Linked DNA regions of Homo sapiens: region 2 is linked to region 1. Evidence: fine-mapped expression QTL. A gene starts in region 1. The other region holds a variant in brackets. All regions are shown on one strand. Distances are from middle to middle.

Region 1 (8,329 bases):
CCACTTTCCATCTTAGGCCATAAATCAAGGTACAATACACTAAATTTAATTAAACTTCAAGGTAATCTAGTTTATCTCATTAAAAATCAACCCATGAAAATTGAATTATAGGCAATTTAGAATTCTCTCTCAACTGGCCCCTCCATGGAAACTACAATTACTGTACAAAGATTTACCCCTACTTTTTGTCACACGGAAAACATTATTTTCTTTGAGTAGTTCATGTTAGCATAATTCGAAATAATCATTGTTAGGTGCTGGCTTCAATATGCAGTATGTGCCATTTTTATAAAATTTATGTACATGACCTATCTATTAACAGAAGGGTATATACAATATTACAGTAAGGTTTCCCTGGGGAATAAGATTTTAGGTCATTTTTCACTTCTTATTGGTTATCTGTACTTTTAAATTTCTTACAATGAATATGTACTACCTATAGAATTCTTCTTCTGTTATTTTAGAAAGAAAATCCAAAAGCCTCAAAATTTAGTAAGGGTAAACAGAATTAAACAATCTTGAAAGGGGCCAGGTGTGGAGGCTCACGCCTGTAATCCCAGCACTTTGGAAGGCCAAGGCAGGCAGATCACAAGGTCAGAAGTTTGGAACCAGCCTGGCCAATATGGTGAAACCCTGTCTCTACTAAAAATATAAAAATGAGCCAGGCATGGTGGTGGGCTCCTGTAGTCCCAGCTACTCTGGAGGCTGAGGCAGGAGAGTCGCTTGAACCTGAAAAACGGAGGTTGCAGTAAGCCGAGATCATGCCAGTGCACTCCAGCCTGGGCGACAGAGTGAGACTCCAACTCAAAAAAGAAAAACAAAACAACAACAACAACAACAAAACATGTTTTCAAATGCTATAAAGAACATGATTGGGTCAACAAACTAACTAGAAAACCGACAGCAGATAAGATCCAAGTATTGTATCAATGTTAAATTTCATTAGGTTGATGGCTGTACTAAGCCTATGTAAGACAATGTCTTTGGCTCTTAGAAAATATATACTGAAGTTCTCAGGGGTAAAGGGGATGGGGGACGACGTATGCAACTTACTCTCAAATAATTTGGCAAAAAATGCAGTAGTAAAGCAAATGTGACTAGAAGAAATGTTAACAATTGGTGAATCTGAGTAAAGGGTAAGAAAATTGTACAATTTTTGCATTTTTTATAAGATTAAAGTTATTTCTTTTTTTTATTCTTGTTTTCTTGAGATGGAGTCTCGCTCTGTTGCCCAGGCTGGAGTGCAGTGGTGTGATCTCGGCTCACTGTAACCTCCACCTCCCAGATTCTCCTGCCTCAGCCTCCTGAGTAGCTGGGATTACAGGCGCACGCCATCTCGCCCAGCTAATTTTTGTATTTTTAGTAGAGACGGAGTTTCACCATGTTGCTCAGGCTGGTCTCGAACTCCTGACCTCGTGATCCACCCACCTCGGCCTCCCAAAGTGCTAGGATTACAGGCGTGAGCCACCGCGCCTGGTGATTAAAGTTATTTCTAAGTAAAACATTTTTAATTGAAAAAGTTTAAAAATCAACACATTCAAAATTGTTCTAACAAAAATACTTAAGAGCATGTTGGGCCAACTTCCAGCAAGACTTTATGTGGAAAAATATAGGAACATATTAAAAAATTCTGCTAATAAAAACATATGCAGGACCAACTTTAAGCAAAATTTTAAATCAGCACCATCTAACAGAAATACAATGTGAGCCACATACATAGTATTAAATTTTCTAGGAACCATATTAGAGTGAAAAGAAACAAGTGAAATTAATTTTAATGTTTTATTTAGCCCATGTCTAAAGTATTGTTTCAATTTAGTCAATACAAAAATTGAGATTTTAATTCTTCTGTATTAAATCTTCAAAATCTGATGTGTATGTTACACTTCCAGTACATCTCAATTCAGAAGCTAAATTTTCATAGGAAATACTTGATCTACATTTAGATTTCATAAAATGTACAGTTTAAAAGTAAATTCGCATAACCAAATTATTTCAGTTAAAAGTTTTCCAACCACTGAATCAGATTTTAAATGTAAACTTAAATTAATTAAAATTAAATAAAATGAAAAATTCACTCCTCATTCACACTAGTCACCCTACAGACTCAATAACCACATGTGGCTTGTGGCTACACCCTGGGAAAGCCTGGCTTTAGATGGTAAAACAAATTCCCTCTACAAAAGGAGGAACTAATTGATAAAACTGAAGTTTATCGTATTTATCAAAAGATTTTTAAAACATAGTTATGATAAAAATAACGGGCCGGGCGCTGTGGCTCACGCCTGTAATCCCAGCACTTTGGGAGGCCGAGGCAGGTGGATCACCTGAGATCAGGTGTTCCAGACCAGCCTGGCCAACATGGTGAAACCCTGTCTCTACTAAAAATACAAAAATTAGCTGGGCGTGGTGGCAGGCGCCTGCAATCCCAGCTACTTGGGAGTCTGAGGCAGGAGAATCGCTTGAACTCGGAAGGCGGAAGTTGCAGTGAGCCCAGAGATCCCACCATTGCACTCCAGCCTGGGACAGAGCGAGACTCCGTATCAAAAAAAAAAAAAAAAAAAAGACGATATTCCTATCAGAAGCACACCAAGGTTTCTCTCCAAGGTACAATTACACATCTCCCATACCACCTGTCAGAAACACCAACACAAAGCCTTCTCTACTCTGCCTCAGTTGACATCCTTTAATTTGGGTTTGAGTTTCCAGAAAACTGGCAATCAAATGGCCTTCTTTCTTTCAAATGTGACAGAACAAACTCAAGTTCCGGTTCTCAGGAGCCTAGTCATCCACTGCACAGTATGCGGGGTTTCAGCACAATACTGTCTCAGTCCCAAATGGGAGCATGCACACAGGAGAACTTGTCTCGGATTTAAGAGAGGAAGTGACCCTGAGTCCAGAGGTGAGCTTTTTCTTTTTAAACAGGTGTAAGAGATTAATTCAGTCAACACCAAGCAACACTAAAGATTTGCCAATCAATAATTCTGTGCCAAGCAACTTGATCAGGGATTTGGCCAGAATCCCTTTCGCTAATCTCAATCAGGGCCTTCCCAAAGACATCCTGATTTAGGCCACTCTCATCTAAATTAAGCTTCGACAGTCCCTTGCCTGACAGCAAATAAACAAAATCAAATTATATTCATATGAATAAAATTCTGATAGCTTGACAAAAGGCCCCTTGAAAGATCATTTAGTAAGTGTGAGCAAAAATACAGCTCCAAAGAACAGGAGTTACCATAAAACCATTTTTCAGAAATGTTTAATTCCTACTTTCTTCAACCATACTTTTCAACTGAACAACGCTGTGGCTAACAATCAAATTTAACACACAACAATGAATTCTCATATTATTTTTTCCCGCTACACAAGTATTAACGAATTCTTTAAAACTGCTGAGTCTTCTACTGTGAATTCACTAATGCCTCAAATTAGTCATAGCAGTGGGAAGTGGAGTGCGAGTGTGAACGATGGTTTCTGACACCCGACCCACTAGTGAAGTCCCATCTTCCATACGAAAGCCTTTATTTTTTCTTCCCATCTCACTCACCTAGCTGTTTTCATGCGACATATCAGGGATCACAGATACAACTCTGACCATTGTGTGGACACACTGAAACAATCGCAATCCAAAATCCTCTGTAGATAAACGTTAACTATTTCTCTTTAAAGCTGAACTCCTTTCTTACCCTCACAGTCACAAAGCTTTAAACTGGATGAATACAAAGGTGTTAAGCCGTTCCATCAGAGAGGCTTTTTATTAGATTTATTTTTACCCGTGGAAATACTTGAACATTCTGTAGAAGTAAATATATTCTAAACCTGAGGTCTTTAAAAGAAAGCTCTCAATTAATGCCCAATCAAATCCAGTCTTCAGGTCTCTCTGAAATTAGCTAAGTATGCAGAAACCAGTTGTAATTTTTAAAAGAGCGAAGAGGGAGAAGAAATAAACGACACCAGAACTACACATTCCAGACCAGCAGTTCAAGCACCACTTCGAGAAGGGAAGTAAAGATCAAGCTCGCCGTCTCCCTCGGCCACAGCAGGGCTCCTCCAAGGCTGCCCGCTCCGGCCCGCACCGCGGACCCCGCCGCCCCCGCCCCCTCCCGCGGCCTCCCCAACCCCCGGCCCTGCCGCTTCGCCTTTCTCGCAGCGGGGATGCTCAGGGTGCGACCTCGAAGCACAACCACTGATGGAATTCTGACACCCGAAGAGGACGATTTTTCCAACAGTTTACACGCCTTCGCGGGCACCTTCCCTACTCACTGAAACCCTCACGAAAGCGGTCAACGCACCCAGAGCGGGTTTCCTCGGTCTACGGACGCAGGCAAACAGCGCCACTTAAAAAATGCGCGTCCGCGACCCGGCCCCAGGCGGCAGAGGGAGCAGCGGGCGGCCTGGCGCGGGAGCTCCCCCGGGGCTCGCAGCATCCCTGCCGCGCGCGAAGGCCGGGGCCGCGTCCACCTGGCAACAAAGGCGAAGCCCGCCGCTCGCAGGTGGGAGGCCCGGAGCCGAGGCCCCGGTGCCGCGCGAGGGAGCGTACGGGGTCCGCGCGGGGCCGCCCCTGGAGAAAGCCCAGCCGCGGACTCCGGCGGGAGAGGAGCGCCCTGGCATTGTCCCGGGGGAGGGCGGGGCGGGCGCCCGGGGGCACTGGGTCCCCGGAGGAGGTGGCGGCGCCGCGGGCGGGTTGGGGGCTGGGTCGGCCGAGGCGGACGGCCGCCCCCAGCAGCCCCGACGCCTTTCATTTGGCCTCTGCGGCGGCTGAGGCAGCCCGACCTCCAGCGCTAAGCACTGCGCCAAGCAGGGACGGGCGGGGGAGGGCGCGCCAGACCCGCCGCAGAGCCGGACCCCCGGCGCCGCACCGCCGGCCCGCCCTGCCGCGGACCCCGCTGCCCGCCCGCAGTCCGCGCTCCTCCGGCGGGCGAAGGAGACGACTCTCCGGCGTTCGCCCGGTCCCCACCTCGATGTAGCCGGCCAGCGCCAAGGCAGGCGCCGTGAGCCCCACCAGCAGCAGAAGCAGGAGCCTGCCCGTGGCTGCGGCGGCCGCGGTCCCGGTGGCCGCCATCCCTCGCCGGGTCGCTCTAGCGCGCGGCTCTCAAGCTCACACACTCGGACTCCTCGCTTAGCACACCGCGACCCAGAAGCATCTAAAGCCAGTTCGCCGCCGCCCCGGGGGTTTTACACCAACCGGAACTGACTTCATATTACCACGCCCTCCTTCTGCGGCTCCCAATGCCGGCCCGCAGAACCCCTCAAGACCCCGCCCCCTTGCGGTCCAGACCCAATCAGGAGATGGAAGAGCCTGCTCCTCCCGCCCGGTCCAACCGCGCGCCCCCCGCCCGGCCCCGCCCCCGGCCGCGGATGGCCCCGCCCCCGCTCCGGACCCTGTGGCCGCCAGGCGCGGGGGCGTGCGCGCGGCGGGTCTGGGGCCGCAACCCTGTGGGCGCGGGGCTGGCTCTGGCCTCCGCCCCCCGGCGCGGTTATCTGTCCCTGCTGCGCTGGTCCGTCAGCCTTCAGCCTCCCGATACGGGCACGCCCCGCTCCCCTGCCCCTGCTGGGCATTCTTCAGACTCCTTTGGGTACCGCCCTCTTTTTGATTCTGGAAATGGTTTTATTAAAAACAGGATGAATTAGGAGTCCGGGACGGTCTGCCAAGGGCCGTCCCCCGAGGCAGGGGGAGGACCGCAGGAGGCAGCCATCGTCCTCCCCCGAGCCCTACTCAGGGCGCGCCTCTCCCGCCCTGCTCCGCCCAGGCCTCTCCGCCGGGTCCTCGCCTCTGAGTCCGGCCGCGCTCCGCACCCTTGGCCTCCGGTCTTTAGGCCTCTTGCCGACCCTTCCTTCCCAGCAGTTGCCCAGGCAGGGATAGAGACCAGGGGTGCAAGAACCACGCCGGCCTCACAGCCCAGGCCCCCTTCCTCGTGTGTTTTAGGAAGAGATCACGCCGCTTCTTCGGTTGAGACGCACTAGCGGGAGACCTGCTACTCTGCCTTCCTGCTCCGCGGCATTGCCACTTCAGTAGAGAAAAACGTCCTGCTGCCCCATTTAGCAATTGGCACAGCCTCGCCACCGCCAGGGCTCCGCTGGCCTTGTTTCCTTTCAGTCGCCTGTGAGTTAGGTACTGCCTTCTGAGAGACCTGGACTAGTCCCTTCAGGTTCAACTAAATGCATAACACAACCCTACCCCCAGGACGCTGACAATAGAAAGGAAGAGACTGTCCGCGGAGTAGACGAGTGCGCCTGTAAGAACTCGGGATTTTCCAGCCTTATTCTGCACCACTCTCCCCTACATGCCCAGTTCCCTGTGGGTAAACTGGCTCTGCCCGATTCCTCCAAGACGACACCTTTCCATTTCACAGCCCTTCCTAACACTCTTCTGCGCCTGCAATGTCCTCTCCCCAACATCTGCCTGTTGGAAGCGTTTTCACTGTTCCTCGGCTCAGTCGGCTGAAATATCGCTTCTGATTGCTCAGAGGGATGTTTCCCACTGTGGCACTCGCTCCCTAGTTATTCCATACCTCTCTCAGGTCACTGACAAGACTTGGGTCTGTCATGCCGCAGTGCCCCTCACAGTGCAGTCCTCGATAAATGTTTGCCCAGTGTTATTGAACCCAGTTATCTTGGGTGCTGATACTAGTTCTGGAACTGGCATGAATTTGGCTCTTGCTATGGACCGAATTTTGTCCCCACCCCTAATGTGTGTGCCGAAGCGCTGAACCCCAGTGTGATGGTTATTTGTAAATGGGGCCTTTGGGAGGTAATCGGATTTGGATGAGGTCATGGAGGTAGCAGGTCATGATGGGATGAGTGCCTTTATTAGGAGAGACACCAAAGAGCTTGCTTTTCTCTCACACTCTCTGTCCCCTACCCCCAACCTCAGCCCTCACCTCCCTCCTCCATGTGCGAACACAGCAAGAAGGCCGCCATCTGCAAACCAGGAAGAGGTCCATCACTGAGGGGCCAAAGTGGCACCTTGAGCTTGGACTTCCCAGGCTTCAAGAACTGTGAAAAATAAATCCCTGTTGTTGAAGCCCCCCAGCCTATGTTATTTTGTTGCAGCAGCCGGAGCTGACTGACACAGCCGCATGATCACCGGCAAGTTCCTCCATCGCTTGGGACTCTCTTTTCTTCTCTGTCAAATGTGAATATTAAAACCTGTCTCACTGCACCGCTTTGTGTGATTGAACTTAAAATGAATGTACAATAGTGAAAAGCATGAAGTGACTTAAATGTAAGGGGTAGGAGGGTAAAGCGATGTATTACTAAGTGCAGGTTCATCTGCAAGTATGTGGGAAAAGTATCAAGTGACTACCTAAATCCTCATTGAGTTGTTGAGCCTAGGGTAGGACATGTAGCCCCTCTGGGGCCTGTTACCTCACCTACAAAATCAGGGCCTTGAACTCAGGGAAAAGCAAGTGAGATATCTGAGTTCAGTGGCGTGGATATTCATGCTTTGGAGACTGTATCTTCAAGACTGAGCTTTAATATCATGGGATAGTACAAGGAAATACAGGAACATAATTTAGAGGGCCTTCAGTCTAAACTTAGGTCTTGAAAGAAGTTTATTTGCATTTTCAAGTTATGGAAGGATCGTTACTAAGAGTTGATAGCCCCATTCATCAACATTCTGTACTTTAAAATGTTATGGTCTTTTTATTAAATGACACTGACAGGAACATACCTGGTCTTGCAATTCTCAATAATTTTTCATTCCAAATATGCTCATGTCAGTGACCAAGGCTTATGAGTAGTATGTTTTCATTTTATTATCTTTTATGCATAAAAGCAAAAGGACCTAAAATAACCTCCTGGCTGGGCACAGTGGCTCACACCTGTAATCCTAGCACTTTGGGAGACCGAAGCGGGTGGATCACCTGAAGTCAGGAGTTCCAGACCAGCCTGGCCAACATGATGAAACCCTGTCTCTACTAAAAATACAAAAAAAAAAAAAAAAAAAAAAAAAAAGCTGGGCGTGGTGGCAGGCGCCTGTAGTCCCAGCTACTTCGGAGGCTGAGGCAGGAGAATTGCTTGAGCCCAGGAGGCGTAGGTTGCAGTGAACCGAGATTGTGCCACTGCACTCCAGCCTGGGTAGCAGAGCGAGACTCTTGTCTCACAAAAATAAAAATAACATAAAGTAAAATAAAATAACCTCATGTTTCTTCTACCTTCTTAAGAATCAGACTTTCTCCTAAATCAGCTCTCTTCTATGCACACTTAAGATGTGTGCATTTCCTTGTTGAAAAAAAACAAAGTTGATTTTCCTAAATGTATACTTAACATGAGGAGAACCCTCACATTAATTTGATACTTATTTATCCAATACCTATTCAGGCTA
Region 2 (8,329 bases), 27 kb after region 1:
CTGGAGTGCAGTGGCATGATCTCAGCTCACTGCAACCTCTGCCTCCTGGGTTCAAGCGATTCTCCTGTCTCAGCCTCCTGAGTAGCTGGGACTACAAGCATGTGCCACAAAACCTGACTAATTTTTTTGTATTTTTAGTAGAGTGGGGGTTTCACCCTGTTGGTCAGGCTAGTCTCGAACTCCTGACCTCAAAAGATTTACCAGTCTCGGCCTCCCAAAGTGTTGGGATTACAGGTGTGAGCCACTGCACCCAGGCTTCAATTGTTTTAAAACTGCACTTGTATGTATAAATAAACACAAAAGATGAGAGGTATGTACATCAAAAATGTTTATAGTTGTTATTTCTATTATTTTAGTTAGGTTATTGTTATTATTGCCTTTATCATTTTGTTTTCTCCAGATTTTTAGCATTGAGCTGAAACTTTTTTTTTTTTTTTTTTTTAGACAAGGTCTTGCTCTGTTACCCAAGCTGGAGTGCAGTGGTTTGATCACGACTCACTGTAATGTTGAACTCCTGGGCTCAAGTGATACTCCTGCCTCAGCTTCCTGAACAGCTAGGATGTCTGGTTAAAGGTGTTTTTGTTTTTTTTTTTTTTGTAGAGACAAGGGTCAAGTGTCTCACTATGTTGCCCAGACTAGACTTGAACTCCTGGCCTCAAGTGATCCTCCCACCTTGGCCTCCCAAAGCCCTGGGATTATGGGCCACTGCAAATGGCCCTAAAACATTTCTTAAGAACACATTTTTTCAATAGGGAAAAGCACAGAAAATAATACAGTAAACACGTGCCTACCATCAAGATGGAACAGTTAGTTGTTCACAGTTTGTTATATTTGTTTTACACATTTCCTTTTTTGAAGAAAGAAATAAAACACTATAGCTATAGCTGAAGCCCCTTGTGTACCCTTCCCCAGTGCCATTGCACTTTCTCCCCAGGAGCAATCTTTAATGTGAATTTAGAATGTTTTCCTATCTTTTTTCCAACCCATTGCAGGTGGGAGATTTTGTACCCCGATTCACTGCCTCTCACAGTGTCTTAGGTAGCCCTGGTCTTAGGTTTTCATTCTGCCCCAAGAGCTGCCATTCTAAGTACTTTTCCCACGCACATGTGTGTGCGTGTGTGTGATTATTTTCTGTATATATATATATGCATTTATTGTGCATTTTAAAACACACAAAGCATGTATATATGTAATTATATGCTCACATATGTAATATACACATATATATTACAAAAGCATATATATAAGTAATATAGATAAGAAGAAGCATATGCTTTGTGTGTTTATTTTATTTTATTTTATTAATGGAGTTTCACTCTTGTCGCCCAGGCTGGGATGCAATGGCACAATCTCAGCTCACTGCAACCTCCGCCTCCCAGGTTCAAGAGATTCTCCAGCCTCAGCCTCCTGGGTAGCTGGGATTACAGGCACCCGCCACCACACCCAGCTAATTTTTTTTATATTTTTAGTAGCAAGGGGGTTTCTCCATGTTGGCCAGGCTGGTCTGGAACTCCTGGCCTCAGGTGATCCACCTGCCTTGGCCTCCCAAAGTGCTGGGATTACAGGCGTGAGCCATCATGCCCGGCCTGTCTGTGTGTTTAAATATATATATATATACACACGCACACATGAACATCATGTAGTCCTGCTTTGTGTGTTTAAAAATGCACAATAAATTATATTGCATGTGTTTCTGCAAATTACTCTTTTCATTCAATTTTATGTTTCTGAAAGATGTTAAAACATATACACATATCTTAATTAGAAAAATTATTTTTTGAAAAATCCGGGTGCGGTGGCTCACACTTGTAATCCCAGCACTTTGGGAGGCCGAGGCAGGTGGATCATGAGGTCAGGAGTTCGAGACCAGCCTAGCCAAGATGGCGAAACCCCGTCTCTACTAAAAATACAAAAATTAGCCGGGTGTGGTGGCACATGCCTGTAGTCCCAGCTACTTGGGAGGCTGAAGCAGGAGAACCGCTTGAACCCGGGAGGCGGAGGTTGCAGTGAGCCAAGATGGTGCCATTGGACTACGCCTGGGCGACAAGAGCAAAACTCTGTCTGAAAAAAAAAAGAAAAATTATTTTTTTGGCCGGGAACAGTGGCTCACGCCTATAATCCCAGCACTTTGGGCAGCGGAGGTGGGTGGATCACCTGAGTTCAGGAGTTCGAGACCAGCCTGGCCAACATGGTGAAACCCCACCTCTACTAAAAATACAAAATGTAGCGGGGCATGGTCGCAGGCACCTGTAATCCCAGCTACTCGGGAGGCTGAGGCAGGAGAATCACTTGAGCCCAGGATGCGGAGTTTGCAGTGAACTGAGATCTTGCCATTGCACTCCAGCCTGGGCAACAGAGTGAGACTCTGTCTCTAAAAAATAAAAAAGTAAAGAAAAAGAAAAATTATTTTTTAAAAAACGTTCCATCAAAAACCACCAGCATGGCTGGGCGTGGTGGCTCACGCCTATAATCCTAGCAATCTGGGGGGCCAAGGCAGGCAGATTGCCTGTGCTCCAGAGTTGGAGACCAGCCTGGGCAACACGGTGAAACCCCATCTCTACTAAAATACGAAAAATTAGCCAGGCATGGTGGCTTGCGTCTGTAGTCCCAGCTAATTGGAAGGCTGAGGCAGGAGAATCACTTGAACCCCAGAAGCATAGGTTTCAGTGAGCCGAGATCGCACCACTGCACTCCTGCCTCCTGGGTGATAGAGTGAGACTCCATCTCTGGAAATAAATAAATAAATAAATAAATAAATAAATAAAATAATAACAATAAAAGGAAACTTTTTTCTAGAAATCTATGATGTGTATTTTCATGTCACCTCATTTGAGTTTCCTAAGAAGTCTAGGAAGCAGGTATTATTATTAATCCCACCTAACAGATGGAGAAACATCATTCAAGAAGTTGAGACTTCCTCTCCCGTCTCCCTCCTCTCCCTCCTCTCCCTCCTCTCCCTCCTCTCCCTCTCTTTCCACGGTCTCCCTCTGATGCAGAGCTGAAGCTGGACTGTCCTGCTGCCATCTCGGCTCACTGCAACCTCCCTGCCTGGTTCTCCTGCCTCAGCCTGCAGAGTGCCTGCGATTGCAGGCGTGCGCCGCCACGCCTGACGGGTTTTCGTATTTTTTTGGTGGAGACGGGGTTTCGCCGTGTTGGCCGGGCTGGTCTCCAGCTCCTGACCGCAAGTGATCTGCCTGCCTCGGCCTCCCGAGGTGCCAGGATTGCAGACGGAGTCTCGCTCACTCAGTGCTCAATGTTGCCCAGGCTGGAGTGCAGTGGCGTGATCTCGGCTCGCTACAACCTCCACCTCCCAGCCGCCTGCCTTGGCCTCCCAAAGTGCCGAGACTGCAGCCTCTGCCCGGCCGCCACCCCGTCTGGGAAGTGAAGAGCGTCTCTGCCTGGCCGCCCATCGTCTGAGATGTGGGGAGCGCCTCTGCCCGGCCGCCCCTACTGGGAAGTGAGGAGCCCCTCTGCCCGGCCACCACCCCGTCTGGAAAGTGAGGAGTGTCTCTGCCCGGCCGCCCCATCTGAGAAGTGAGGAGCGCCTCTGCCTGGCAGCCACCCCATCCGGGAGGGAGGTGGGGGGTCAGCCCCCCGCCCGGCCAGCCGCCCCGTCCGGGAGGTGAGGGGCGCCTCTGCCCGGCCGCCCCTACTGGGAAGTGAGGAGCCCCTCTGCCCGGCCACCACCCCGTCTGGGAGGTGTACCCAACAGCTCATTGAGAACGGGCCATGATGACAATGGCGGTTTTGTGGAATAGAAAGGGGGGAAAGGTGGGGAGAAGATTGAGAAATCGGATGGTTGCCGTGTCTGTGTAGAAAGAGGTAGACATGGGAGACTTTTCATTTTGTGCTGTACTAAGAAAAATTCTTCTTCCTTGGGAAAAAAAAAAAAAAAAAAAGAAGTTGAGACTTGCCCAAGGCTGAATAGTTAACAAGAGGCTGAACCTGAAATCACAGCCTGGCTTTCACCCCTGGCTTTGCAGGCGGGAGATTTTGCACCCGGCTGATGCACTGCCTCTCACAGTGCCTTGGGCAGCTCCAGCCTGGGGTTTTCATTTTGCCCTAAGAACGGTCAGTGGAGAGTAAAGTCTGTTGGGCAAACT[T/A]CTCCCTTGCTGACCAACGAAAGGCAAGCATCAAGAAATCAGGAAGAGGGAAGAGAAACAGAGCAAATGAGGAAAACAGAAAGAGGAAATAACAAGCTGGAACGCTGGTGGCTCTGTGGTTAAAAAGAGAGGAAAATATAAATGGAGAGAAAATGGTCATTTTGGTCAAGTATAAAAGGTAGACAAAGGTTGCTGAAGATTGAGAAGAGAAACAGGTTAGACACCATTCTACCCCACATCTTTCAGTACCTTCGCTGGCAACCCCAGGGTTGGAGGGTGGGGCCGGGAGCAACTCTTCACTTCCCCTAGAGCAGAGTTTCCCAAAATATAGCAGATATCAAAGATAATTTTAGATATTACAATAACAGGCATTAGTTGAATGGCAGGGTACAAAAATGAAATATTTTGAAATTGTTTTAATCCTTCTCTCCCCAATTGACTGAACAGTCTGAATCAAATGGAGTAGCAAAAGAAATATTTCACTTTCTTTAACTACCACCTTCCACATACTCAATCTCTCTCTCATTGTAGGGAAGAAAGATTATTCCCTCTTTCCAAATATTTCCCATATTCTTGGTAAGCCATTAACTTGAGGAAAGGTAAGTTTCTCTTAACTACCTCTTGGGCAGAGCCCATAAATATCTGATCAGTTTTAGTTACCAGAAAAAGCCAGTGTCGTTTAAATTTTTAATTTCATATCCAAATTAGTGTTTGCCTGGTGCCCTTCTGCATCCCTCTAGGTTCCTTTCTCCTCCGGGGAAGGGAACACATGCCCCCCTCCACAAGAGATGCCCTGTGGTCCTCTCTGGGCCGCACGGCCCCTCCCTGGCTGCTGATGCCCGCTTGTCCAGGAATCCGAGTTCAGACTCTCATGGCAGTGTGAGGGTGAGTTTTTTGGTGAGCTGTGCAGTTCCCCGACATGGGAGGGTCACCAGGGCTTGACCACTTCAACTGTCCCTCAGCTCCCATTCCTAGGGGTCACGATTAGGGTCATACACATCCAAACTCTACGGGGTGCACACTGGGCTCCCCAGGTCCCCTCACACTCCACAGGCTGCGAGCCGCGCCTTTCGGACTATCCCATTCTCAGCAATTCTCCCAGGCCCCTCACTGAACCTCCACGTCATGCTACCTGCCACCCGACCCCAACCCCTATCCCCAGCATCTCCAGCTCCGCTTCCACGGACTCTGACTGGATGATGATGAAGCCGCAGGAGCAGGTGAGCCACCGTGATAAGCCCTGAGGAGGTGTCTGGCCTCAGTCTTTCAGCTCTGCGGAACAGCGGGAAATGCGAAAGCGCTTCTCTGTTCTCGACCGTGGACCCCGGTCTCCAGTGTGATTGCATCTAGTATGGCAAAGCCGCCTCTCTCACGCTTAGCCTCCTTTCTGTCCCTACTCAGAGAGAGAGCAAGCCTTCTTTAGGCAACAGCATCCATCCACAAACTAAGACCATTTGGCCTTCCTCGTGCTTATTTTCACTGTACACTGTACAGTCATGCGTTGCTGAACAACAGGATATGTCTGGGAAACGCATCATCAGGTGATTTCATCATTGTTCAAACATCCTAGAGTGCACTTACACAAACCCAGATGGCACAGCCTACTACACATCCAGGCTGTATGATACAGCCTATGGTTCCCAGGCTACCTTCCTGCGTGTATACCGCACAGTGCTGAATACTGCAGGCAATTGTAACACAATGGTAAGTATTTGTGTATCTAAACATAGAAAAGGTACAGTAAAAATGCCAAATGAAAGACTTTTTTTGGGGGCGGGCACGGTGGCTCACGCCTGTAATCCCAGCACTTTGGGAGGCCAAGACCGGCAGATCACGAGGTCAGGAGATCGAGACCATCCTGGCTAACACGGTGAAACCCCGTCTCTACTAAAAAACAAAAACAAAAACAAAAACAAAAAATTAGCCAGGAGTGGTTGCGGGCTCCTGTAGTCTCAGCTACTCGGGAGGCTGAGGCAGGAGAATGGCGTGAACCCGGGAGGCGGAGCTTGCAGTGAGCCGAGATCGCGCCACTGCACTCCAGCCTGGGCGACAGAGCGAGACTCCGTCTCAAAAAAAAAAAAAAAAAAAAAAGAAAGTTTTTTTTTATAAAGGAACACCTGTCTAGGCACTTTCCATGACTGGAGCTTACAGGACTGGAAGTTGGGTGAGTCAATGAGCGGGCAGTGAGGCGATGTGAAGGCCTGGGGCATTCTGTGCACTATACTTAGGCTACATTAAATTTATTTTAAAAATTTTATTTCTTCAATAATACATTAACTTTTAAATTTTTGAAAAATTTTTAAATTTTTATTTTTTATTTGAGACGGAGTCTTTCTCTGTAGTCCAGACTGGAGTGCAGTGGCACGATCTTGGCTCACTGCAACCTCTGCCTCCCAGGTTCAAGTGATTCTCCTGCCTCAGCCTTCCCAGCAGCTGGGATTACAGGCGACCGCTACCACACCCAGCTAATTGTTGTATTTGTAGTAGAGACGGGGTTTCAACATATTGGTCAGGTTGGTCTCGATCTCCCGACCTCAAGTGATCCGCCCGCCTCGGCCTCCCAAAGTGCTGGGATTACAGGCGTAAGCCACCGCGCTGGGCCAATTTTTTTTTTTGACAGGAAGTAGGATTTATTAATGAGCATTAGGAGGGGACAGCACAGTGGAATCTCTCATGAGCTCAGAGTCCGATACTTGCCCAGGGCGCCGCGAGTGGGGATGTATCGGACCCTACAGCCATCTGGGATGAGCCGCTTCTCAGCCACATGTCTTCAAATTCATCCGAATCGAAGGTGGCAAAGCCCAGTCTCCGACACCTGGGTCTTCTGGCGCCGGGAACCTGTCCTTGGCCCTGCACAGTCATGTGCTCCGTGTTCCGCGGTTTGGTGCGGACGGACTTGACAACCCGGCCCCTGCGAACCTGGCCCCGGCCGCGGGGGCTTTCCACAGGCACCTGCAGGCCTGTCTGGAGCCTGCAGCCCCAGCGCAGGACGAGACCTTGTATTGAGGATGACGCGGACGGGGTGGGGAAGCCCTGGGAGGTGAGAGCGTCCCGGCCACCACTTTGACCGTGCGCTTGACATAAATGTGCGCAGCTTCCCCGGCTGCAGAGTGGAGCGGCTCGCGTTCATCCGACACCAGGTAGGGATCTCACCATGTGGCCAGAGGGGGAAGGCTTTTGCCTTCTTCCGTCCCAGGTCAAAGATACACGTGTTGGCCTCGGGGACACTCCCCAGCCCCCAGCGGAACCGAGGCTTGGGGTGCAAATTCGTTCTTGCAGTTCCAGCAACACCGGGGGCGCAGCCCGTGGCAACGCCGAGGTCTCCCGGGGCGCAGAAAGGAAAGACCCCTCTATAATCTTACGTGACCACCATCGCATACGCGGCCTGTAGTTGACTGAAACGTTATCTGGCGCGTGACTGTAGTGACTTTCCATTTACCATAGACATCGGTGTTTTTTGTTTGTTTGTTTGTTTGTTTGTTTGTTTGTTTGTTTTTTGAAACGGAGTCTCGCTCTGTTGCCAGGCTGGAGTGCAGTGGTGCAATCTCAGCTCACTGCCACCTCTGCCTCCCGGGTTCCAGCGATTCTCCTGCCTCACCCTCCCGTGTAGCTGGGACTAGAGGCGCCCACCACCATGCCCGGCTACATTTTTGTATTTTTAGTAGAGACGGGGTTTCACCGTGTTAGCCAGGATGGTCTGGATCTCCTGACCTCGTGATCCGCCCGCCTCGGCCTCCCAAAGTGCTGGGATTACAGGCGTGAGCCACTGTGCCTGGCCTAAAATCTGTTTTTTATTTGTAAGGTTTTTTGTTTGTTTTTTGAGACAGGGCCTCACTCTGTCACCCAGCCTGGAGTACAGTGGCACGATCGTGGCTCACTGCAACCTCGACTTCCTGGGCTCAAGCAGTCCTCCCACCTCAGCCTCCCGCGGCAAATTTTTGCATTTTTTGCAGAGATGGGGGTCTCGCCATATTGCCCAGGCTGGTGTTGAGCTCCTGAGCTCAAGTGATCCACTTGCCTTGGTCTTCCAAAGTGCTAGGATTACAGGTGTGAACCACCAGCACCTGGCCTCATTTATAAGTTTTTTAAAAACCAAGTGGGTTTAAATAAAAACGTTAGGTTAACAATTGATTGTACAGGTGGTAAGTAGCCATTATGGAAAAAAAAAATAGTGAAAGTGGCATTTGAAAGACTTAAGTTTCTGAAACACTGCTTTGAGCCGGTGG

Evidence for each region.
Region 2: its variant is fine-mapped to the expression of APLP2 in whole blood (TOPMed, PIP above 0.99).

The regions. Positions count from the first base shown.
Region 1 is chr11:130,066,711-130,075,039 of GRCh38, reverse strand. It overlaps APLP2 (amyloid beta precursor like protein 2), which reads right to left and starts at 5,146. Exons shown (of 17, transcript NM_001142276.2): 1 at 4,958-5,146. The coding sequence starts at 5,062. LOC107984432 (a long non-coding RNA gene) reads left to right here and starts at 5,391. Exons shown (of 2, transcript XR_001748444.2): 1 at 5,391-5,576; 2 at 5,927-7,162. RefSeq lists silencers at 4,258-4,717, 4,788-4,917, 5,308-5,537 and enhancers at 5,454-5,954, 5,955-6,455.
Region 2 is chr11:130,039,517-130,047,845 of GRCh38, reverse strand. No RefSeq gene overlaps it. Among named protein-coding and RNA genes, the nearest start is that of APLP2, 26 kb to the left of the region's middle. The variant T/A (reference allele first, on the strand shown) is at 4,104.